3 separate regions of the Homo sapiens genome follow, and regions 2 and 3 are each linked to region 1. The links come from fine-mapping of genetic effects on gene expression. A gene starts in region 1. Each other region holds a variant in brackets. All regions are shown on one strand. Distances are from middle to middle.

The links.
Region 2: its variant is fine-mapped to the expression of ARAP2 in whole blood (INTERVAL, PIP 0.95).
Region 3: its variant is fine-mapped to the expression of ARAP2 in whole blood (INTERVAL, PIP 0.95).

The regions. Positions count from the first base shown.
Region 1 is chr4:36,240,766-36,249,121 of GRCh38, forward strand. ARAP2 (ArfGAP with RhoGAP domain, ankyrin repeat and PH domain 2) reads right to left here and starts at 3,749. Exons shown (of 33, transcript NM_015230.4): 1 at 3,414-3,749. It overlaps LOC439933 (a long non-coding RNA gene), which reads left to right and starts at 3,351. Exons shown (of 5, transcript NR_122079.1): 1 at 3,351-3,446; 2 at 4,407-4,545; 3 at 7,717-7,841. RefSeq lists a silencer at 3,545-4,124.
Region 2 is chr4:36,074,451-36,082,450 of GRCh38, forward strand. ARAP2 (ArfGAP with RhoGAP domain, ankyrin repeat and PH domain 2) reads right to left here. Exons shown (of 33, transcript NM_015230.4): 30 at 7,801-7,836; 31 at 5,766-5,829. Among named protein-coding and RNA genes, the nearest start is that of ARAP2, 170 kb to the right of the region's middle. RefSeq lists an enhancer at 7,171-7,220. The variant G/A (reference allele first, on the strand shown) is at 4,587.
Region 3 is chr4:36,062,045-36,070,044 of GRCh38, forward strand. It overlaps ARAP2 (ArfGAP with RhoGAP domain, ankyrin repeat and PH domain 2), which reads right to left. Exons shown (of 33, transcript NM_015230.4): 33 at 3,960-6,234. The coding sequence ends at 5,863. It also overlaps the pseudogene LOC651644. Among named protein-coding and RNA genes, the nearest start is that of ARAP2, 180 kb to the right of the region's middle. The variant A/T (reference allele first, on the strand shown) is at 4,905.

The DNA of each region.
Region 1 (8,356 bases):
TAAGGATTGTCTAAGCTATGTTTTGATTATTTTACTTATAGCACAATCTGAAAAACACAATAAAAAAACCTAAAACTTAAAAACAATTTCCATCCAGTGAAGGCCACAAGTACAAATTCCTTTACTTAGTATAAGAACATATTAGTAGCATAGGAGGTACCTAGGTTTAGGTGTTCTGGATAATATCGCAATAGTTAAATGCTTGATAATCTCCTTAGCTTCTGTAAGTCTTTTCCTTTCAAGCTGTCCATCCAGATTTTAAGTTAATTCACTAAGATTTGAGAATTTTTAAAAATTCTAATGTAGAGAGATCCCTAAGGTAAAGCCATAATTCTTGGGATATCAGAGAATAATTTATTCTTCTAGAGTTTCTACAAAAGCAGAATTTTAAAACTTTTGTATAAGTGTATATACTCCACCATTTCTCTGAATGTAAGTCATATTTTTAGACAAACAACCAGATGTTTCAGAATAGCCTACTGTGTTTCCTCTCTTTGCATTTATAAATAGTACTCTGACCTCTTTTCCAACTGAGTTTGAGGGTTTATTCCTATTGGTTTAGCAATTGTCAAAGTTTCTTTTTCTTATAAAAAGAGGGCATTTCAGAAAACGTCTCCTACCTTACTGGACCATTTTTTAACATGTATTCATTCAATATATATTAAGCAACACTACTCGCTCCAAGATAAGAGAGGGAGATATTTGGTGTTCAAGATAACAGCCTCTACTGTCTCATTTGACAACAGTGCTAAGGGCTACAAAGAAAGTGAAGATACAGTCTTCCCTCCAAGAGTTTACAATCTAAAAGGGTAGATGAGACATGACTATAAGAAAAGGTAAATGGCACGTATATGAACAATCAGTTCATTATTACTCAGTAAGTGCCAATAAACAATACCAAAGACACCACAAAAAAACAACTTTTTGCAAAGAATTTGATATATTCCAAAAAAAACACTTAAATTGTAATGGTGAGAAAAATCCAATTTTATGACCCTAATTTCCACATGGTTTTATATTTTAGTATTGTTTTAAATACATGGAGAAGTGGCCCCATCATCCTTCATGAGTTCTCAGGAACTCTAAAAAATCTCAAATCTGCCACCTAAACCACTGCTTCAACCCAAATCAGGCCTCCTTTGTTTTCTCTGCAGCATGGGTAAATAAGTAAGCTTGTGCTGAACAGAAACTGAAACAAAATTTCACAGGACAACTTTCTAACTAGAAAAGATCACGTGAGGAGAATACCATTAAGTACTGCTTCATTTAAAGAAGAAACAAGTGAGCAAAATGGTTTAACTACCATTATATATTTAATCTGGCCAATACTTACAAGTAATAACTAAAATGATAAATTACAAGGTCCAGAACTTTGCAGAAAAGATTAAGACAGCGTCTCATAGCCTCTAATCTCACATCCACCATATGTGGTCAAAGCTAAGACATATTTCCCAGATTATTAAGAAGTTCTCTACCTAATTAATATTTCACCAAGAATTCCCAAAACTCTTACAATGTAGCATGTGCAAAGATTGTATCCAAGAAATGTATCAATAAATAAATGAGGACAGGTGGAAATGTATGCTAAAAGAAAACTATTAAAGCAATGACTATTATTTATACTTAGCATTTTTATAGTCACTTTCACCAAACTTTCTCACAGTTGCAGGGAGGTGGGTTAGAAAGTAACAAAACGAAACAACAACAACAACAAAAAACTTCTCATATATCATGAAGTCTATAACCCAGAATTCTACGTAGACTTTAAAACTTCATAGTTTCAATGCGTTAAAGTTCTTAAGAAAACTGTAATTCATTATAATCTGAGTTCTATACTTCTCCACAGTATCCAAGAATAGTTGGATCTGATATTATTGCATATCCATGAGCCTTACACTGCAAGGAGCTTGCAGTGATATTAGAAAAACAAGAATTTGTTTTTAAACGTACCATCAGCTTCTCCTTTTACAGACAAGCCACATAAAATCTGACAGGTTTACAGACGAAGGAAAAAATACAAACACAAGCACACACCCATATAAATACGTTTTAACAAGCTCTCTCACTTACCCTCTAGGTACATTTTAATTCAAATAAATCTTTGAGTACTGACAAATCTATATAAAACCCTCTTCGTGTTAGGAACCACCTTAAATGTGTATGTGTTAAATATGTTTAGAAAGAAGCCAGGAAGATATTTGCACTTAACCCTAGCCTAGTTCCATGACCCACTTTTTTTTCTTCTTTAAACGTTGTTGGACAAAAAATGTCATGAGTATTTTCTCTCAATATTTCTCCTGTAAGTGTATGGAAGTCATAAATAAGAGTTAAAAAAAAAAGAGTTTAAAGGTATTTCTCTTTTTTTCCTTAAAAAAAGTTAGCTTGCTTTTTATCTTCCAATTACTTACGGGCAAAGTTCCATGGGCCTGTGGGGGTGTAGAGTGCTTAAGTGCAGATAAATCAATACTGAGCTTGTAAGTACAATACTATTATGAGTAATAACAATGACATCCTATTAAATGTACTTTTAAAAATAGCTTATTTTCAATACACTTCTTGATTTTTTTTAAACCGAAGGCTGTATTCTACTGAACAGCCTACTTCAAGGACAAGCTTGCAAAAAAAAAAAAAAAAAAAAAAAGAATTTGCTATCAGGATACCTACTTACAACACCCTAAGATGTCATTATTCCACACAAATTAGCTTATTTTCTTGTGTTTTCCTCTAATTATCAAAGGCTATATAATCCACGAACCCTTTCCCCAAATCAAAATAACTCCAGATCACCTCAAGGTAGGAGGTGTTTAAGAAAACAAGCCAGAATTAGATAAAGTAAAACTTACTTTATTAAATAGGATGGACACCACTTCTCCCAAGAGAACTGTCTCCAAAAGTAAACAAGAAAGATCAATCTGGTAAACTCACATCATACAGGTTCCCGTGTAAGGTATCGGGTTCAGGCAGGTGGAAGCCAAATGATCGTAATTAAAGTTAATTAACAGGCCAGTCGTCTTAACGTGGTTAACAAGCAGGGTGCGGGGCAGCACAGACACCCGGGCAAATTCATGATCTCTACCGAGTAAATAACTTGGTGCCTGAAACTCACTACAGCTTCTTCTTATTTAAAGGTAGGGGAGAGGAATGGAGGGAGTGTCCAGCTGTCTATCCGGATCCTCACCCTCCCGGGTCAAATCCCAGAAGTGGAGTTCTTGGATCACTTACCGGCTTCTGGTTTCCTTTCAGACGCCCACACGCGGGAGCGAAATCCAAGGGGCGGACACCAGAGCCGAGCACTTTGCGCTGAGGAAATTTACCCGGTGAAGTGTCGAAAAGCCCCAGCCCCTCCAGACAGGGTCCTCCCACCCCCGCGTGGGCCATCCCGGCCCAGCCTTCCCGAGGCCCCGGGTACTCGCCTTGCGCTCGGGTCGCGGAGTTCGAAAAGCGAGGTGAGGCGGCGCTGGGAAGCTCAGCGCCGGCGTCTCTCCCAGCCTTGGGCGCTCGGTCCTCGCCCCTCTGCCGGAGGCGCCAGGCCTCCTCTTTCCCGGTCCCCGCCGGCTGTCCGCAGTCGCCTCTGCTGCCTGGCGGCGGCCGCGCGGGCGGCGCTGTTAGTGGGGCCGGCGTGTCGCGGCCGCCGCACCTGGAGGCGGGGAGCGCGGGCCGCGGACCCGCGCTCAGCTCCGGAAACGCCGAGCCCGGCGCCCGCGCCTTGCTCAGGTGCTCCCGCGCCTCGCCTCGGCCGCCGCTTCCTCTCCGCCCGCGGGGGCGGGGAGCAGGCGCCCCGCGCGGGGGAAGCCGGAGCTCAACGGCGGGGGCGGCCCAGCCGGCCTCCCTGGTTCCGCAGCATAGTTGGGTGACTGACTCAGACCGCCGCGACTTGGCCGCGCCTGGCACCCTCGCCACCTGGCGCACCTCGGCCCGGAGGCGTCAGACCCCGCTGGGGAAGCTGCGGGGGCGCGCCCTGGAGCCCAGAGCGACAGGGGCATTACCCACCTTCCCGGGACGGAGATGCCCAGGACCTTGTGTTGGCTCCTCCTGGCCAGTGGGTTTGTCTGTGCGCACTCATGGGGGGTTGAATGTCAAATGGGCGGAACCTCGCCACGACTGATTATTAGTATTACTCTTCCAAGTACTTAAAGTGTTAGCTCAGCGTTTCCCAAACTGAAGACTCATCTAGGGCACTATTTTCCCCAGGCTGCTTCTATGTAAATTTGCTCCTTCTTGCACCTGTGGCGGTTAGATCCCAGAGGGGCATTTCCCCTTTGAGTTGGACTCTGACAAAGGAGGCAGCGAAGGAAAATAGGGGATCCCAAAGAACCCTTGTGGACCTCCAAATATCTAAGCGTCCGTAAAATCCAGTTATTTGCAAGTGAGTTCACAGACCAACTACTTTTTTTTTTTTTTTTTAGACAGGGTCTCACTTTGTCACCCAGGCTGGAGTGTAGTGAGGCAATCTCAGCTCATTGCGCCTCCGCCTCTGGGTCCAAGCTATCCTCCCACGTCAGCCTCCCAGGTAGCTGGGATTACAGGCGCGCACCATCAGCCAAGGTAATTTTTTTTGTATTTTTGGTATAGACGGAGTTTCGCCTTGTTGCCCAGGCTGGTCTCAAACTCCTGACCTCAAGTGATCCACCTGCCTCGGCCTCCCAAAGTGCTGGGATTACAGGCGTGAGACACTGCCCCCTACCAGCTTTTTTTTTTTTTTTTATAAACATCTCCCACAGACTACCTGAAATTCTCTTCATTAAAAGGTGAAATGTATTTATCTTTCCCCTGTTCCTGTTGATGGAAGTGAAGCAATTAAGGAAAGCGCAGACCTTATGAAAATGAGATAATTGGTGAAGTGCGGAAAGAGAGAGGCTTCCCACAAGCCTGGGCCCTTAGGATTCTTCAGTCATCACCTTCACCCACACTAACTACCTGCCCAAAGCACCGTCTTTCCCTGGGGAGACTCTGAAGCAGCTCTGTCTTACTAGAGACACCAAATATCCAGTTCCTTTTGAACTTAATACCTCATAGCCGACCTCATTTCCACCAGGAAAGTTTTATTGACATTTTCCAAACCACGGGAACTTTTTCTCTGGATTCCTATAGCATTTATAGGAGGAATTTTATTTATGTGGCTCTTTTCTGGCTTCATTCTCTGTGTGTGTGTGTTTCTTTTGTTCTTTTTCCCTTTTCCCTCTCCAAATTCTCACATACTTCTCTCTTTTTTTTTATCTCTCTCTTTTTTGTTTTTGTTTTTGTTTTCGACTGAGCCCCGCTGTATCGCCCAGGCTGGAGCGTGGAGAGCAGTGGCGCGATCTCAGCTCACTGCAGCCTCCGCCTCCTGGGTTCAAGCCATTCTCCCGCCTCAGCCTCCTGAGTAGCTGGGATTACAGGCATGCACCACCACGCCTAGCTAATTTTCGTGTTTTTAGTAGAGGCAGGGTTTCACCATGTTGGCCAGGGTGGTCTGAAACTCATGGCCTCAAGTGATTCGCCTGCGTTGGCCTCCAGAAGTGCTGAGATTACAGGCGTGAGCCACCATGCCTGGCTCTATTTTTATCATTGTAAGCCATCTTCGGTCCTTCTCTAAACAAGGTGGGTTATAAATAAAAATTATTAGATCAGTTATCTTATGTGTGGGAGGTTCAATCATTGCTTTGTCCTCAAGTTACTTCGCTTGGTAGATTTTATAAACTAATTGAGAAATTGTCTCTCTCCCTCTTCGCAAAAATATCTTAGTTCTTTGATTATTATTCAGTCATTTATTCTTTAAAAATTATTAATCACTGTTTGGCATTTTGAAAATACAGTGTTTAGCAAATACAATGCAATCTCTGGATTTATGTTTTCTGAGGGGAAATAAAGGTAAATGCTACAAGGTACAACAATGACTTCATAATAGCCCTGGGAAATAAAGAAGAACAATGCTCACTTATTGAATGTATACATTAGTTATAAGATGTATTCTGGTTTAATGAATCTTAATATATGGAGGAAAATAAAAATGTCTGAGGAAATACGGCAAAAGCTATCTTTTATTAATTGATCGATAGTCACCAGACTCTAGTCAAATACCTAACATATATGCTGTGTATACACAACGTGTGTGAGTTAAAATTCTTTTTTCAATTTTATAAATATAGGTTTAATTGAAACTTAAAGAGGTTAAGTAGTAAATAGTGAATACATTGAATACATTTAGGCTATATTCTTAGGGTATAAATTTTTTATTTTGCAACCTTCACAGTGAGGTATTCAGAGAGCAAAGTACACAGGGAAATTGGCTTTACAAGGATTAAGGTATGGGCCAGGCACAGTGGCTCAGGCCTGTAATCTCAGCACTTTGGGAGGCAGAGGCGGGCAGATAACCTGAGGTCTGGAGTTCGAGACCAGCCTGGCCAACATGGCGAAACCCCATCTCTACTAAAAATACAAAAAAATTAGCTGGACATGGTGGTGCATGCCTGTAATCCCAGCTACTCAGGAGGCTGAGGCAGGAGAATCGCTTGAACCTGGGAGGTGGAGGTTGCAGTGAGCCGAGATTGCACCATTGCACTCCAGACTCCAGCCTGGACAATGAGACTGAAACTCCATCCCCTCCCCTCCAAAAAAAAAAAAAAAAAAGGTAAGAAAATATGTTTAATCTCAAGACCATTGGAACATATATTCCCAGTAATTTTCATCTAGGCTGAAATGATTCCACAATGACGAGCTCCTGCACATTTTTCCCAGATTTTTAGTAAAAAAGCAGGTAAAGATGTGTCTGTGCCTATCTATGTATTTACTATTGTGATCTCTTGTTGCTTTACTTGTCGAGGAGACAATTTGAGAGAGTGAAAATCTTCCTCCTCTCCTCCTCCTCCTCACTCTCTCCTCTCTCCCTCCTTTTCCTCCTTCTACTTTTTCTTACAACATGATGGCTAATACCCATTGAGCACTGTGTGCCAATTGCTGTTCCAGGCATTTTAATTACAAGAGCTCATTTAAGTATCTCAGCAGTTCCTTGGAGAGATGTTATCTCCTTTATAAGAAAACTTAAGAGACAGAAAAATTGAATGCTTTACACAAATCAAACAATTAGGACTGTACGGGAGGGAGAATTCCAACCCAGTCTTCTCCAGGATCTATTCTGCACTGTATTGTGTCTTGAAGAAAGTAGAAGGCTTGGAAAAGGCTGCATTCAAGATGGAACCAGTATAGGTTGCGGCATTTTTTTAAGCAAATTCATTAACTTACCTGAGCCTCAGTTTCCCCATATGTAAACTGAGAATAATAATACCTATGAGAATTTAATATGATTATATATCTACAGCACCTAAAAAAATAGTAACCCCTCAATGCATTTACTTTTAGTTTATCTTCTCAAATTATTCTTCAAGATTTGATTCAAATCCTACCTCCTTCTCAAGACTTTCAAAATCTCTGATACTCGGAAATATGTACACAACAGGATTTAAAATAATCTTTCCTTTTTTTTTTTCTAAAAGAAAATCCAGTATTGCTTTTGCCAAATATGAAAATTAGGTATATAGATAAAATAAGCAAATGTCTACTTATTTAATTCATCAATTTAGATGAATATCTATAGAAGTAAAATTATATTTTAAACTATACTGTTATTTCCACTTATATTTTATGAAATATTTAATTCACATTTTCAAATTTTAACATTCAACGACTTCATCACTATGGGCTGATTTTTTTCTTTTTTCCTTTTTTTTTTTTTTTGAGACATAGTCTCATCACTCTGTCACCCAGGCTGGAATGTAGTAGTGCAATCTCGGCTCTCTGCAACCTTCACCTCCTGGATTCAAGTGATTCTCCTGCCTCAGCCTCCTGAGTAGCTGGGATTACAGGTATGCACTGCCATGCCTGGCTAATTTTGTATTTTTAGTAGAGACGGGGTTTCTCCATGTTGACCAAGCTGGTCTCAAACCCCTGGCCTCAAGTGATTCGCCCACCTGGACCTCCCAAAGTGCTGGATTACAGGCATGAGCCACCGAACCTGGCCACTACAGGCATATTTCTGATATATATTTTTTGTTGCTTTTCTGTATACCATCTCAGCCCTATCCTTCAGCCCTGCTCCCAGGGATCCACTCCCCAGTAAAGAGTTCACATATAGGTTTTTGCCTCAGGCTGTATTTTCTGGGGGAGCTTTGGCTAAGACGTTTTTCATCACATCCTCTTATATTTATTTGTTCAGTAGCTTATTCTCTGCTTTAGATACAAGCTTTCTTTTTGGCCTGGAAAAAGGTAAATTCTTTTTTAAAGTTTTAATTGACAAAAATGTATATATTTATAATGGACAACATGTTTTGAATATGTTTACATTGTAGAATGGCTAAAACTAGATAGTTAACATATGCTC
Region 2 (8,000 bases), 170 kb before region 1:
TGGAGAAAGGTTAATTTGGATGGGGATAAATGTTCACAGGTAAAAATATAAGCTCTGGAGTGATTCATCTCTGATATATACATATAAAAAATTCTTTAAAGAATTTTGTACTCCCCAGGGTAGATTAACTTTCCAGAATTTGGAAAAAGTATATTGATTTTCAAACAACAATCTATGACGTAAACACAGAATACCGAGTATAAAATGAAAAGTTTACAGATATTGTAATGAAATGAAAACCATTTAGTAAACTATATAGCTAAATGCCTACTCTTTATTTCTCTCAGTTCTTAAGCAACAGATTATTGTTCTTAGGTTGCAGCTCTTATTTTAATGTGTTGCTTTATGGCAAAGAACTCATTTAAACAAATATTTACTGTCTACCTACCATATAATAACAGCTAATTTAACTAAGGGGCAAACTGCCAAGCTGTATGTTTATCAATGTACATATAATTTTCATTTATTCCTCAATGATCTTACAGTGCAGATCCTTTAATGTGCATCGTATCTACCCTTGAATGTTAGTGAAGCATTTACCTTAGTTCCGCAAATCTATAATGGTAGGTTATACAGTATTTCAATTGGAAAGTTATAGCTTCACATTATTTTTATGACACAGTACCAAACATGGTTAAAAAAAGCATATTATATAATTGTGATGTTCCCAAAACATAAACCTGGGAGAAAACTGACTGAGAGGGAATTAGGCAATTTTGTGAATTACCCTTACACTTTCAAATCACTGATGTGTAGTGCATACGCTAAAATATATTTTGAAGAATCTAAGAGCAAATGCGGTTCCCAAATCCATATTTCTCTTTTTCTGAAATAATATACAACTGTGAATACCAGCTAACTCTCCTTGAATTGAACTAAGAGGCATTTTTTTCTACTTTACATCCAAGTGATGTGTTCTGATTTAACATTTGTAGTTATTTGTAAATGACTTCAAAAGTCATACAGCACGGATCATATAGGTGAGGATCAAACTTTCATTTTATAACCAAAGACCACACCTAAACATCTCCATTTCTGCCTTCCATTTTCTAACCTTTGCCTATCTTTCCAGCTAACTAAATTTAGTTTCATTCATTTTAACTATTCTTTTCACTCCTTGAGACCTCCAATCCACCACCACTCTTCTCACAACATTTTTTACCACTTCCCTCATTGCCTGGCTTTCATTTCATGGTCAATCAGTAAACTCACTTCCTTGTAAATATCTTCAAGTTCAAATTTTATCTGATTACTTATTTATTTTCTTGCTCCTTCGTTCTCTATCATACTTGCCTGGCAAAGCCCCAAACCTAATTAAACACAATTCAGCTTATTTCATGAGTGCCTGCCAGTTGATGGAGGACAAAAACAAATTACTCTGTACATCCATCACACTTTAAATTTAACCTTAAATTTTAAGAAACCATTCAGCACTGCCTTGAAGTTCTACCATGGGACAACTGGTTTCCTCACTCTCTGAAGATTACTTCTCTCCTTTGCCTCTGCCCTTACACTTCAAAAACCCTGCCTGCGTCACATGTGGTGATCTCACTGATTCAATCCAACAATTATTACTGATCATTTAAGAAAATACTCCCATCATGAAATGTACCAATCTCCTTGCATCTATAGTCATCTAAGTGAGTTTACTTCTTGCAATCAGTATTTGCTGATTGCAAATAACTTTTATCCAGTCATATCTATAATTGCTCAGCTCAATGGGTCATAAATTTAGGTGGTCAATAATTTGAGAAGAAATGTGCCACAGTCTCTGCTGTATGATGATTTTTAATAATGAATAACCATGCACTAGATCATATCATTTCATGTCTGTTCAGGGCCTCTGCTGGTTTAATAACATCTCTCCTCTTCTGTCCATTTCTTCTTCCTGATTGGATTGTCTTCATATAATGTATGCAAGTACACACTCCCCCATCTTAAAGATAAATCAAAACCCCCAAACCTACCTTCACCTCTATCTAGTCACAACCTCATTTAATTACATAAGAAATTACTTGAGAGAATTTTCTGTACCCATCACCTGGTTTTCCTCCTTTCTTACTTCTTATCACTGCTTTTGCTGTTTTTTTTTCTTCTGCCTACGCTTTAAATTTTGAAATGTCCCAGGGCTTATTCCTCCATTCTCTCTCTCTCCCCAACCCTCCTCCATGCTTCCCTCTCCACCTCCATGCTTCCCTCTCCACCTCAAACCTTCTCCCCCAGGCATCTCATCTAATCCTATAGCTTTGAATATAATCTAAGTGCTGACTTCCCCCAAATTTACATTTTAGCCCCAAACCTGTGCCTGAGTTTTTGATCCACACATCCAACCTGCTGCCCAGCATACATATCTGTGTATCTAATAGGCATCTCAAATTTTATGTGGCCAAAATAGAACTCTCCATTTCCTTCTACATCTCTGATGATCCCACTTACATCTGACAGTTGCCAAAAAACTAGAATTTTTTCTGATTTCTACTCTTCCTCTCAAATTGCAATAGCCAATTGACACAGGAGTTAAGAAGGAATTACTAAGCAGATAGCAAGGGCATGGGAGTCCTTGGTAAGGCTTTTCTTTTTAATGAAAAGCAGTCCCAAGCCATCTTCTAACAAAAAGCAGCCTGCAATCTAGGAGCTTGCAGGGGTGAATGCTGGCAGGAACTAAGGACTAGACATTTTCAAAATGGTGGCTCCATCTTCCCTTCTCTGCCAGCCAAATGCATTGTAAGGAGAGGACAAGATGGTGTCAATCAACTGGAAAGCCCATTTGCATAAGAAGATTAGGGTGGGGGTGACCAGACTTACCCATACACTATGTAAACGCCATATCTGATCGAAACAATCTGTGAGCCCTTCGTAAATCAGACACAACCTCCTCAAACTGGACTATAAAACTGCGCATTCTGCACTAGCTGGTACTTTCTGCTTGGAGACCTCTTCCTGTTATAGAGGAAGCTGTTTCTCTTTCTCTTCTCTTCTACCTATTAAACCTCCTGCTCCTAAACTTCTCGTGTGTGTCTGTGTCCTAAATTTTCCTGGCATGTGACAAGGAACTCTAGGGTATATACCACAGACAACGTAGTCACTTCGCAATAATTCCAAAAGCCTTATTGGCTCTACCTTCAAAATATTCCTGAATCTTAATTTGTCTTACCATATTCATTACCACCCTAGTCTGAGTTGACATCTTCTTTCCTATAGCTGTTCATCCCACTTGCATCTTTGACCCTCTACACTGCAGACTCAATGAAGTGAACAAAATAATTTTTTTCAATTAAAATTAGATTATATCCTTCCCTTGTTTCAAACTATTAAGCAGGAACTACATAATTTGTCACAAGCCTTCCTCATCTCTAATATCTTACCTTCATGATGTTTATAGAATAAAACAAGACAGTGATGATGTCTCAGGACATACCCTGCTGGCCCCATTCCTGAATGATCCTTCCTGGAAGCCTGCATGATACCCCTCTCATTTCAGACTGGTCTCAGGTCACCTGTCACCTACTCAGAAAGCCATTTCCTGAGAACCTTCCTCAATTAGTGCCTTCCTTATGTCAGTCACATGCTCTCCTTACCTGCCATATTTTATGATTCTCCTATTTTATCACATGGATATCCATTTGAAATTTTATCTGATTACTGATTTTCTTACCCTATTTCCTATTTTAGAAATACTAACTAAACATGTACTTGACATACAAGTCAAATATGATGAAGAGTCCTTCTTTTCATGGAGTTTACATTTTAGTAAGAGAGGCAGACATGAAATAGCTAATTACATTTTTTTCTTTACTAATTAGTGTCACAGTGGAGAAGTACGGGATGCTAAGGGTGATAGCCTGAAGGTCTAAGTCATCTGAAGGTCAGGAAAAGTTTCTCTGAGAATGGGATATTTAAGCTGAAGTCTAGATGACTTCTGAGGCAGGGGTGTGGAAAGGATGGAGATTACAAAAGTACTCTGAATACCAAAAGGAGCTCATTATAGGGGGTGTTTACTGTTAATTCGCATACGTGTTTGTGTGTATGTCTACGCTTTTAACATATATATAAATATTTGCTATTTTGCTGTTTCCCTACAGAGATGAACCATAAATCCTTAAATCCAAGAAGGCTTCTGTGTTTATCTTAAGGGAGGACCTGAATAATACCAAGAAGTAAAAAGAACAGAGGAAAGATAATTAGGCTAAATCTTTGAGACGAGGACTAGGATTAAAACATGAGACAGTAAGAAATAACCTTGTAGTGAGAGTAGGCTTTGCTTCCTGCATTCATTGTTTAAATTTCAACTGCAGAGTCTACTGACTCCAATTATAAAAACAAAAACATCAGTTTAGTTGTGCCACAAATGACACTGTAACAGCTTTAGACTCTATAGTCCCAACTTTACCAAAAGACTTCAAATCCAGTCTTTTGTTTTTCCTAAAGTAGAACTCGATGTGGCCTAGCACAGTGGCTCATGCCTGTAATCCTAGCACTTTGGGAGGCCAAGGTGGGCGGATCACCTGACGTCAGAAGTTCGAGACCAACCTGCCCAACATGGTGAAACTCCATCTCTACTAAAAATACAAAAATTAGCTGGGCAC[G/A]GTGGTGCACGCCTGTAATCCCAGATACTCAGGAGGCTGAGACAGGAGAATCACTTGAACCCAGGAGGCAGAGATTGCAGTGGGCTGAGATCATGCCACTGCACTCCAGCCTGGGCAACAGAGCAAGACTCTGTCTCAAAAAAAAAAAAAAAAAAAAAAAGTTGAATATCTGAATTTTAATAAGTTACAAAAAGAAGAAGAAAAGCCTCTAAAAAGTTAGCAGCCAGTCTCTTGTGCACATGTTTTTCCAGGTAGTAATGGTAGAGAGACAGGCTGAGAAGAGCTGTGTTTATTAACCACTGAAAAAGTTAATACATTAAATGAACAGAGAAAACTATTTTCAGAACAAATAAGAACTAGATTTTGGAGTGAGCTAACTTATTTCTTATAAGGGAAACAGGAAAATACCTCCTCAGTAATAAAGAATGGCAACTTAATCGTTACCAGTGAATTTCAATGCTCCATGAGAAGCATTATTGGGAATTTAGCTAGACAAGGTTGGGAAACAAACCAGTCCAATTAATGGGACTATATAACTGTTCCTCAAAAGGGTAAGTCCTGCTCTAGGGAGGAAAACAAATACGGAACTGAGTATAAGCATTGGCCTCAGACATCCCTGGGTTTAAACTACTAATATATGGTCCTGAGCAAACAACCAAACATTTGTTTTATAAAACCAAAAACATCTTGTATGGTTTGCTGCAAGGAATACATGAGTTATTCTTATGAAGTATCTAGCACACAATAGTTATTAAAGAAAAGTAGGTTCCTGTCCTTGTTTCTGGAAAGGCAGGGGTGGAGAGAGTGGGAGAACAAGAAGGGAAATAGAACACTTTTCTAAATGAAGGTCTATGTGGGATTGTGGTAGGATGACAGCTTAGAAAAGTCCCTCTTTCTTACACGACCATTTTAAAGCAACACACCTCACCTAAGCCAAGGAGGCTGTGGGGCTGGCAGAAAAGACGCTTTAATGGAATAAACTCTCTTTCAAAAGGTAATGAATAAATTTGAACTTTAATATACTATTTTAAAAACTAAGAATGAGAGAATCAAAGTTTATGCCAATTGTACATACATTTAAAATGCTTATTAAAAATTCTTTAGAAATCACCATCACACTAACATTTCCTGTAAACAAAGTTATTATACTCTACTGGATAGTTCAAACAAATCTCGTACCTGGGCAATAAAGATACTGGTCATCCACTCCGTCTGAGTTCGTGAACTATCACAACACAGGTGCCTGCAAAACGAGGTTTATAAACTATGTCATTCAAAAAGACAATTGACTGTTCTCTAGTGTATCTGCTGAGTGATTTGGTGATCAAAAATCTCTGGGTCTCTCCTGATTAATGACGTAATGCAATCACAAAAGTGGAACATTTCAGTACAAGTTGTTTTGGTCTTCTGCTAAATGTACAATACGAAGTTATAGTGTAAATATATTGGTTTAAACAAAATACAACTGAAGCCTTTGGTAAGTGCTGCAAAATGATGACCAATATTTTTCGGAAAGGCAGAAAGATTTATTTCATTTTGCCTTTTCAAGTACCTGATGGTAAAACACTGTATTCCACTAAAATTCTGAGCCTGAGAAGAAAAATATGTGCACATCCTCATAAGAGCAGATCTTTCTTTTTAAAAGGCTGAGACATAGTCTCCATCATTGTAATTGTAAACACTAATACCCACAGATTCATAAAAAATGAAACTACATGAAAAACCACTGCATATCCAATAACAGTGATTAAGTAACCTTTTATTGAAAGACTAACTAAAACAGAGACCTTGTCCTGAAGGCTCCTGTAGTCTATTAGGGGAGCTAAGCATATAGACAAATAAATTACAACACAGTGAGAAAAAGCAAAAATAAAACTGAGTGCAAACATAGAAACCACAGACTTGGGGATGAGGAGAGGGTTGTTCTTTATAAGAGGAAAATTTTATAATTGATATTGGAAAGATCTAATGGGCTTTTCAAAGTAATTGTATTCTTTACATTCCTGTATTATCAAAATAATTTACCTGAAAAATGTTGAAAATGAAATTTCTAAAAAATCTGTGTTTTCTTCATCAGCACCTCATGAAAACATTGTCTTTCCCTATTACCATGTCCAGGCCACAAACCATTCCTGCCACAAATCATTTTAATTCCGTACCCTTGTTTATAAAATACTGTAGGTGCAAAGAAGAAATAATGATCAGAGGTGAGAGCTATTAGATAAGGCTTTGGGGCATTTGAGCTATGATTTCAAAGAACATTGACAGTTGAGTTGGTTGAGTCATCAGGGGGAGAATGAAAGTATGACAGGAAGGAGAAGTGAAAAGTATGAACAAAGGTTTAGTAGAGGGACCATGTACATCACACATGCAGATCTGAAACAGCAAGGAATGCGTGGTGAATAAAGATAGATGATTGTTTTGTCATTAAGTGAAAAAGAAAAACTGTGGGAGATGAAGTTGGTGGAGTCATATATAGCCTTGCATGCCACGCAACAATTCTGTGCTTGATCCTATAGGTGAAAGAATTCACAGAAGTTTTAAAGCAGGAGAGAAACATGGTACAGCATAGAAAATACTCCTCAGTGGAGAGGTGGAGAATGTACGACAAAACAAAAGCAAAGAAGAGGCCTGAAGAGCACTTAGGACTCCTGGAATAATCCAGGCAGATCAATGAAGGCCAGGCCCTCAGGGTAGAGAGGTGTAGGTGGAGGAGGGGCACAAGGAAGAGGCAGATCTCGTGTGGCTCAGTGACCGATTAGACACAGGGAGGTGAAGAGAAGGAAACATCTAGTACAATCTCTAGAAATACTGATGGATACTGGTAACAGTATATGGCAAAAAGTACATATATAGAAATAGGGTTGAGAGCGGGATATATGTTTTTCTTAAATCTGATTTTAGCTAGTTCTTATTCTGTTTTAAAACTATCACCTACTTATCTCATAAAAGCTGAATTCCACACTCATAATAACTATGGAAGAAATCAGGCGTAGTTTCACTTCAGAGGCATTGCCAAATAGGATACATGGGACTTGAACCCTGATACAAATCTGTTTTCCTCTTCTTAGGCTCAAAGTCTTTACAAACAACCCTAATTTCACTTAGGCAAAACACTTTCCGTCTGTAGTTCTATCTGCAATTACTGAAATTATTCTTTTCCTGAAATTGTCACCAATATATTATGTCCAAAAGTTGTCAGCTGTTAACTTACCAGTGATGTTTCTCAGAATATGCGGTCAATCCCCAGCTGCATCACATAGAAAAAAAAACACACATAAATTAAAAATAATACATTTTACAAGACAGAAAACAGGATTAGATGTTAAGGAGATGAGATTTAATGGTGGGAATGCATAGACTTCCACAAGTGGTGATTCAATGTGTTGGACTTAGCTAGAGGTGAATGCTAAA
Region 3 (8,000 bases), 180 kb before region 1:
AATCCCTTGACAGTTGGATAGTTTGCAAATATTTTTTGCCATTCTGTGGATTGTCTCTTCACTTTGCTGGTTGTTCTCTTTGCTATGCAGAAGTTTTTAACCTGATGTGATCCCATTTGTCCATTTTTGCTTTGGTTGCCTGTGCTTATGGGGATATTACTCAAGAAATTTTTGCCCAGCCCGTTGTCCTAAAAAGTTTCCTCAATGCACCATGTTGCTGCTGCTAGGGGGTTGGGGAGGAATGGTGTTGATTCAAGACCGTATTTTCTACCCCTTCAGTGCCTCCTTCAGTGATAAGAAGTTAAAACCAGGTACTGTGAGTGCTCATCTGAGTTTTGGTTCATATGAAGTTTGTTTTCTGTGTAGATAGTTATTAGGTTGGTGTCCTTTAGTGAAGGACAGTTGGAAGAGCCTTCTATTACACCGTCTTGATCTGCCTGCTAGAAGCGGTTTTGAAAACCATTAGGGTCAACTAAGATCAAATGAGAGCTAGGAGGACTAATACATTAATAACTAACATTTATTGTATCTCTACTATGCTGCTATATATGTATCTATTTCATATACCTGGCTCGTAATTTGTGTGAGAGTGTGTGTGTGTGTGTGTGTGTGTGTGTGTATAAAACAGTTGTTGAAAAAAGTCAACAAGTTAACATTCCTACTTCTCAGATGAGGACATTTGGGCTCTGAACTTTAACTCATAAAAAGGGTTAAATCTGCAGAGGTATCTCAATTATCAAAACTTTTATATTCAACATATAGTGGCTGTGGCAGAAAAGGGGTAATACAATGTAATTTGTAATATTTTAAATAAAAAATGTTAAAATAATTATACAACTTAAAAACATAAACTTTAATTACCTGATTCATTTCTGTGCTTTGCATTTCCTGATCATTAGAAATTAAATGTGATGATTGTACACATGACAGAAAAATGGTCACATTTTACAACTAATTCTGCCTTAACTAATTGGTAACAGTGAAACAGTAGAAAAACTAACATAACTAACTCCATTTTTTGTTAAAGGGGTCTTTACCTATTCCTGCTCACAGGCTAATTTTAGAGCACTGAGAAAAAATTCAAAGAAAACAGTCATGTAGTTTTCTTAACTAACTCTGTGATTAAAGGAAAAGTATGTAAACAGCTATGTTTTGTTAAAGATTTGCAGAAGCAAACACCGCATGTTCTCACTCACAGGTGGGAATTGAACAATGAGAACACTTGAACACAGGGCTGGGAACATCACACACTGGGGCCTGTCAGGAGGTGGGGGGTTGGGGGAGGGATAGCATTAGGAGAAATACCTAATGTAAATGACAAGTTAATGGGTGCAGCAAACCAACATGACACACGTATACCTATGTAACAAACTTGCACGTTGTGCACATGTACCCTAGAACTTAAAATTTAAAAAAAGAAAAAAAAAAAAAAGAGATTTGCAGAAGCATTGTGACCTGACCATGGACGAAGCAGCTCCAGCTGCCTCAAACTCTGACTAGTATCCAAATTTCTGCGGTTGTGGCGCACATCTTGATCCCAACCCTTTCCTCTTCCTGCTACCCTAAACATAAAAACAGCTTGAAATTTGTACCGACTTAAAATGGTACTTTAGGTCACTAGTTGGCCATCTTCTTGGTTTGCTGGCTTTCCAAAATAAAGTTGCCTTCCTTGTTCCTTGTTCCACCTCCTTAACTTACTGGCTGTTGTGAGGCAAGCAAAATGAGTTTGGGGTTGGTTACAAGTTCATTTGAGTAAGGAAGAATATGTAAGTCTTCATGCAAATTTTGTTAAGATGGTGAAAGTTTTAATCTTCTTCCTAAAGTGATTATTAAAACTTTAAAAAGATGCAAATATCTGCATGCTACAACCTGTTCAAATACATTTAATGCATTTACAAAATTGCTTTTGCATTATATTTTTGAATTAAAAATTATGCAATTCAGCAGCTAATATAGTTACGTTCATAAGTCATATTTTTGCTTCAATTATTTTTGTTTGATTTTGAGTTCTCAGTGACACTTTGATGAATCATCAGGTAATGATTTCTTTAGAAATCAAATATTTAAAAACCATGTCTAATAATTAATTTTAGGGCTACAGAAATAAAATTGAGAGTGCCTTTGAGCACTTTGAGTGCTTTGCTTTTTTGTTTTTTTCTTTCTTTTTTTTTTTTTTTCCTGTGACTAAGCCTTCATTATGCAAGCCTGAGTCCCAACCTCAGGTCTGCACTGGTTGTGGAGGAATTCTCCTCCTTAGAGGTGGAAATAAGCCACCTCTGACCCTACCACCTCCTATTCCCAGCCACACCCAAAGTCTCAACACAGGTTCTGGGCTGGGGGAGGGGAGAACCAAGTGGCCTAGCCAGAGGCAGGGGCCAAGGTTGGATTTCAGAAAGTCCTCTTGATGGAAGTGGGCTCCTGTCCCTGCAGGTAGTGAATGGGGTGGCAGGACTTGCTGGCCCAGTTTGGGCACAGGGATACTACTTGGTTAAATGAATGGTGAGAGATTGAAGGGTGGCCCTGGTCCTGCAGCTCAGGTGGGCTGCTCTGGCTGTGGGTGTACTCTGAGGTGGAGGGTCCCACAGGAATATGTGCAACCTGGTTCCCTGTGGGGAGGGACAGGTCAGGATAGGAGCTCTGGTGACCCCAGACCCTGATTTGCTATCCCTGGAGTTCTGCAGGCTGAAGTCCATGGACCCAGGTAGATGCAGTCACAGGGCATGGGCCCAGGCCTTTCACAGGCTCCCCACCTCTTGGGTCACTGCCTCTGCACAGAAGGAAAGAGAGAAGCCACCATAAAGGAGAGAAAAGACATTGGGGAAGGCAGAGATAAGAGAATAGAAAGGGTGGAGATGATGAGAAAGGAGACAAGGGGAGGACAAGAAGCAGGTAAAGGGAGATGAGGAGTCCAAGAACAGACAATAGAAGTGGGAGGTGGCTGTGAGAAGGCAGTGAGCTGGAGAGGGAGAAGGCAGAGGTCCTCTGGGAGAAGGAAGGGAGGGAGAGAAGGGCCAGGCAAGAGAGCCTTCAGAGTTGAGGTCCCCAGACTTGGGCTAGGCCTAGCGAGACGTGAGCTCCAATGACTTCTTCAGCCTCTTCTTCAGTTCCAGTGGGAAGTTCTTACACACGGGCTTCATGTCAAACTCCACAAACTTGATCTTCAGAGTGAGCCTGCTCTTGCAGGTGGAGCGGGAGAAGCAGTTCACACACATCAGGCCTTGTTGAGGGCCAACACCATGTCACCCTTGACCTCATGGCTGCAGCTACAGCAGATGTCCCAAAGAGCTGGCTGTAGTGGATCTCAAAGTAGGCCAGGCCCTTCTTCTCATAGTGCCAGGGCCCCAGGAATGGCTTCTCACACTCAGGGAAAAGAGCTCTGCATGCCACCACTCTTTGCCCAGTGTATTCACTATGTGGCCTTTGATGGGCTGGCTGCAGTCCCTAGAAATGGGGACAGCATCTTGTCAATGCAGGGCAGGCAGTAGAGTTCACCCTTCAGCTCATGGGCCTCACCAGTCAGCTCCTTCCTACAGTGGATGCAGCTGAAGTGGCCTGGGTGACAGGCACTGTTCCTGAACATGAGGGACTGCTCATGAATGACCAAGTGGCACTGCTGAGGTGCCAGACACTTGTGCCAGTCCCTTGGCCTTCTCATGGTGTGGCAAGGCTGGCAGAGATGCCTATAAACCAGGGGTGGTACTATGCATCTTGTAGGGATGTGGCTGGTCAGCAGCTTCTCGTCAATACAGGCCACAGAGCCTGTAATTGTGCCTGGTTCTCAGCAAGTGGGTCTTTAAATAAATAAAGCTACTTACAGTGACCTGTTTGGAAAAACAATACAGCCAGTTTGAAGTATATATTAAATTCAAATTTTTTTAAAAAGAAAAGAAAGCTAATCTATTTGATCTATTTCACAATAACAACCTTCAACTTCTGAAAATAATAAAGTCACATTCAAGTAGACTTGTAAAACAATTTTAATGTTTACTCAAAATAAATGAGATGTCATCATTAGCCCTTATCTCTCACACTTGAAAAATGGAGACAGTTGTTCAGAATAGAAAGGGAAACAGCTATTAGAGTTTAAGCTCAAGTTTCAAGAAGAATTCAGATAAGGCAGGTAAAAACTCTAGATACTTTTCCACTGTCCAACATCACCAAATATTAATTTCCACATACCTCTTTATTTCATAAAAATATAAATATTTATTAGAAATAGTATGTTTAAGATTAGTTTTTCTTTCTAAATAACATGATTTCTTGCTTTAAAGGAAGATTCCCTAATAGTGCCACCTATTTCATAAACTGTCCTGCAGTTTTGTGCTTTTTAAAAATTCTAATTTACTTTGATTTAAAGAATAAATATCTCATACCCATGGTGAACTATTTTATCACCCCAAAATACAAATGATCCGTATTTTACAATGAAGAAATTCATAGCATCTACCACCACATCACTGTACTATGATTGGACTGACTGAAGTATGGGCCTGTGAATATAGATTGAAAAATAAAAAAGAAATGCTAAAAAAAAAAAACTTAGCTACATAATGTTTAATATCAAAACTCACCAGACAATCCAATTTTAAAGAAACTGATGGAAAAATGCTTCCCCTAACATGAACTATGGTTAGATAGCATTGTCTGTCAGGAAATTCACCAATTCAGTAGCTGATCTTTATGTGGAAACAAAAATAGGGCTTTGTCCTTATTCATAAGTACAGGGAAGAGACCACACCTTTACTTAAAAAAAGAAAAAAAAACCTAGATTAAATGTGACCAGGTAGCCCCCAAATGTATAGTAAACCACCAACTAGCCCCTGGCTCCATAATGGCCATATATTGTATTCTTCCAGTTATTTCTGACAACTCGGAGAAAAACATTACAACCTTAATAATAATTT[A/T]AAAAAATCTAAAAATCAAACAAAACAACAGGACCCTGTGGTGATGAATTTTGTTCGTACCAAAAGTATAGTCAGAAATTCTGAAAAAAGACAAAATGCTTGCATACAATGACAGTGCAATCAGCATCCAGGCCAGGTCCTGTGTACACAACCTCTCCAATGCAGTGTAAGTTTCCTCTTAGCAGCCACCAACAATGAGCTCAAACGTAGTGAATCTGTAATGTGGCTGGTTTTCTAACACTATAAATATTAATAAGAGTGGCTAGTGCTATTATTTACATCTGTTGGCCGAATATTACTCTTGAGAAATAAACACTGGACTTTTTCTTAACAAGTGGTTTCTCATTGACAAGTTCTGGTCATTAGTGAACTAGAATGAATCTTAGCTCACTTCCTTGTTTTGCAGGACATTTAACTCCTTGCTTCTTTTAAAAACTCCAGTGGTTTTTAGGCAGCCACTACAATAAATTCTCCCCCCTTTTTCAATTTACTTCCCTTTCTTTTCCCTAAGGTAGAACTTCTGTAAACCTAAAAACATATGGTAATTTAATATACAAGGTTTCTCAAAGTGCAAAATATGTTACAGATAGTTTCTTAGGCTTCATTTAAACACAGCATTTTATACAATACAGTACAGTTTGAGATTTCTGCTCATAAATTATACCACTTAACAGACAACTACTTTAAAAGGACTGACCACCTAAGTAACCCAATGTCTTCTTACACACGTTAATACAATGGAACTTTACAAGGTTTGTTCAGACCAAAATAAAGTTAATCTTACATTCAGTCACATATATACATATTTTTAAATGCTCCTTAAATGCCTAAGCATAGACAAATTTGCCTATCAATAGGCAAATTCTTATGAATTATCTTATAGTTCAGTTTTGGAGTTACACATAAAGATTGCATACAATATTAAAAAAATAATCTGGGGAGCAATTCATTTTATTTCCTACTTCAAAATCTGCTCATCCTGTAATTCTTTTGGAAGGGTTCTTGACCGTTGTAGAACCACATTAAGTTCTTCAATTACCCTTGATGGTAACTTATGATCAGAGTCCAAAGTAGCTTTGCTATTCCTGTCCTCAGTCTTCCTCAATGTCTTTAGGCCTTTATGGCCTTTTGGTTGCCCAAGTGGGGCTTCAGGCTCTGTGTCCTCCAGGCAGTTGAAACTCCGATGTTTTCGGGGTCGATTTCGAAGTTTATCGTCCTTGTGCTCCAGGCAGTGGGCCACCATGGAAGCTCTCTCCTTTAAGCTAGAGTCCACGGACTCTTTATCACACTTTTCACTGAGCCGCAGCCTTTCAAGTTCTGCTCTTGCACTCTAAAAATAAAATTAAATGTCTCACAGGGAAGCAAGATTTGGCACAATTTAGGTTTAGAAAGTGCAATCCACATAAAAGTTGATGCTTCCTATAAAAGATCTCATTTCTATGACTTAGGTCCTAACTTTACTTCGATACAAGTGGCATGTCTGAATTTATATACTAATCTTAGAGCTACAAAATCAACTACAGACAGTCCCTGGCTTACAATGCCTCAATACGATTTTTTGACTTTACAGTGGTGAAAAACAAATATGCATGAAGTAGAAAGCATACTTCAAATTCTGAATTTCGATCTTTTCCCCGGTTAGTGATGCGCGGTAGGACACTCTCTCGTGATGATGGGCAGTGGCAATGAGCTGCAGCTTCCAGTCAGCCATGCACTCATGAGGGTGAAAAACTGATATGGCGTGCTGTGTTGCCAGATGATTCTGCCCCGCTGTAGGCTAATATAAATGTTCTGAGCACGTTTAAGCTAGGCTAGGCTAAGCTACAACATTCCATAGGTTAGGTGTATTTAACGCCTTTTTTATTTTATGTATGTTCACCTTATGGTGAGTTTATTGGTATGTAACCCCATCATAAGTTGAGGAACATCTGTAAAATGCAATCCATGGAAATTCATTTTAACATGCATTCAACATACCACTTCGAAGGTGTCTTTTGGGTTAGTTATTCAAATTGAATCTCACTTCATACTTGCCTCTTCTAACTCACTCCTGCTTAGATATGTCTAGCAAGGTTTCTATTTTTTTTTTCCTTTTGTTTAATTAGTTCACTGAAGTGTGAGCCTTGTACACACATAGGAAATGATCAATAAATATTTTTGAATGAGTAAATGAAGAAAAGTTTAAACAGTTTCCAGTATACAACACTGTTCTATTTTTCTTAATCTCAGTAGATCCAAACATAAATTTATAACAGAAAATTCAAGTGGAATAAAAATATTTTCATGAATATAATGTACAAATAATTTTGAAATTTGGAATTTTCTGGTAAGATTCTGATTATACATCTTAAGCTATATACATTTTTCCTACTCTGAAATTTATAGGAAGAAATGTTTAATATCTAGCTTAATTCCAAAGTTTCATTAGAATATGTTAAAATACTAAGAAAAATAGTGATGGTTGAACAATGTAAATACAACCAATGCCACTGAATTGTATGTATTTTTAAATAAAGTAGAAAATTCCATGATATATGTATTTTATCGCAAATGAAGTAAAAAAAAAACAAGACAGGGTTTATAAACAAACTTTAATCTTGTTAAAAAGTTTCACTCGGCATCTATTACTTGGGAAAAATTAAGGATAAATATAGAGAGGTTTTATATATCAGAGTGACAGTTCTCATCGTCTTTCAACCATCAGCATAAAAACTTTGGGACTCTCTTAGACACAGAATTTAAGGGCCAAGTAATAACATACATAATGCTGAAATTTCAAGTACACTACTGATATGGTTTGCATCTATATCCCCACCCAAATCTCATGTTCAAATGCAGTCCAGTGTTGGAGATGAGGCCTGATAGGAGGTGACTGAATCGTGGGGGTGGGGTTTTCATGAGTGGTTTTAGTACCATCCCCTCTGTGCTGTTCTCCTGAGTGAGTTATGTTGAGATCTGGTCCTTTAAAAGTGTGTAGCACCTTTCCCCCCTCTCTCTCTTGCTTCTGCTCCAGCCATGTAAGATGTGCCTGCTTCCCCTTTGCGTTCTGCTATAATTGTAAGCTTCCTAAGGCTTCCCGAGAAGCCAAGCAGATGC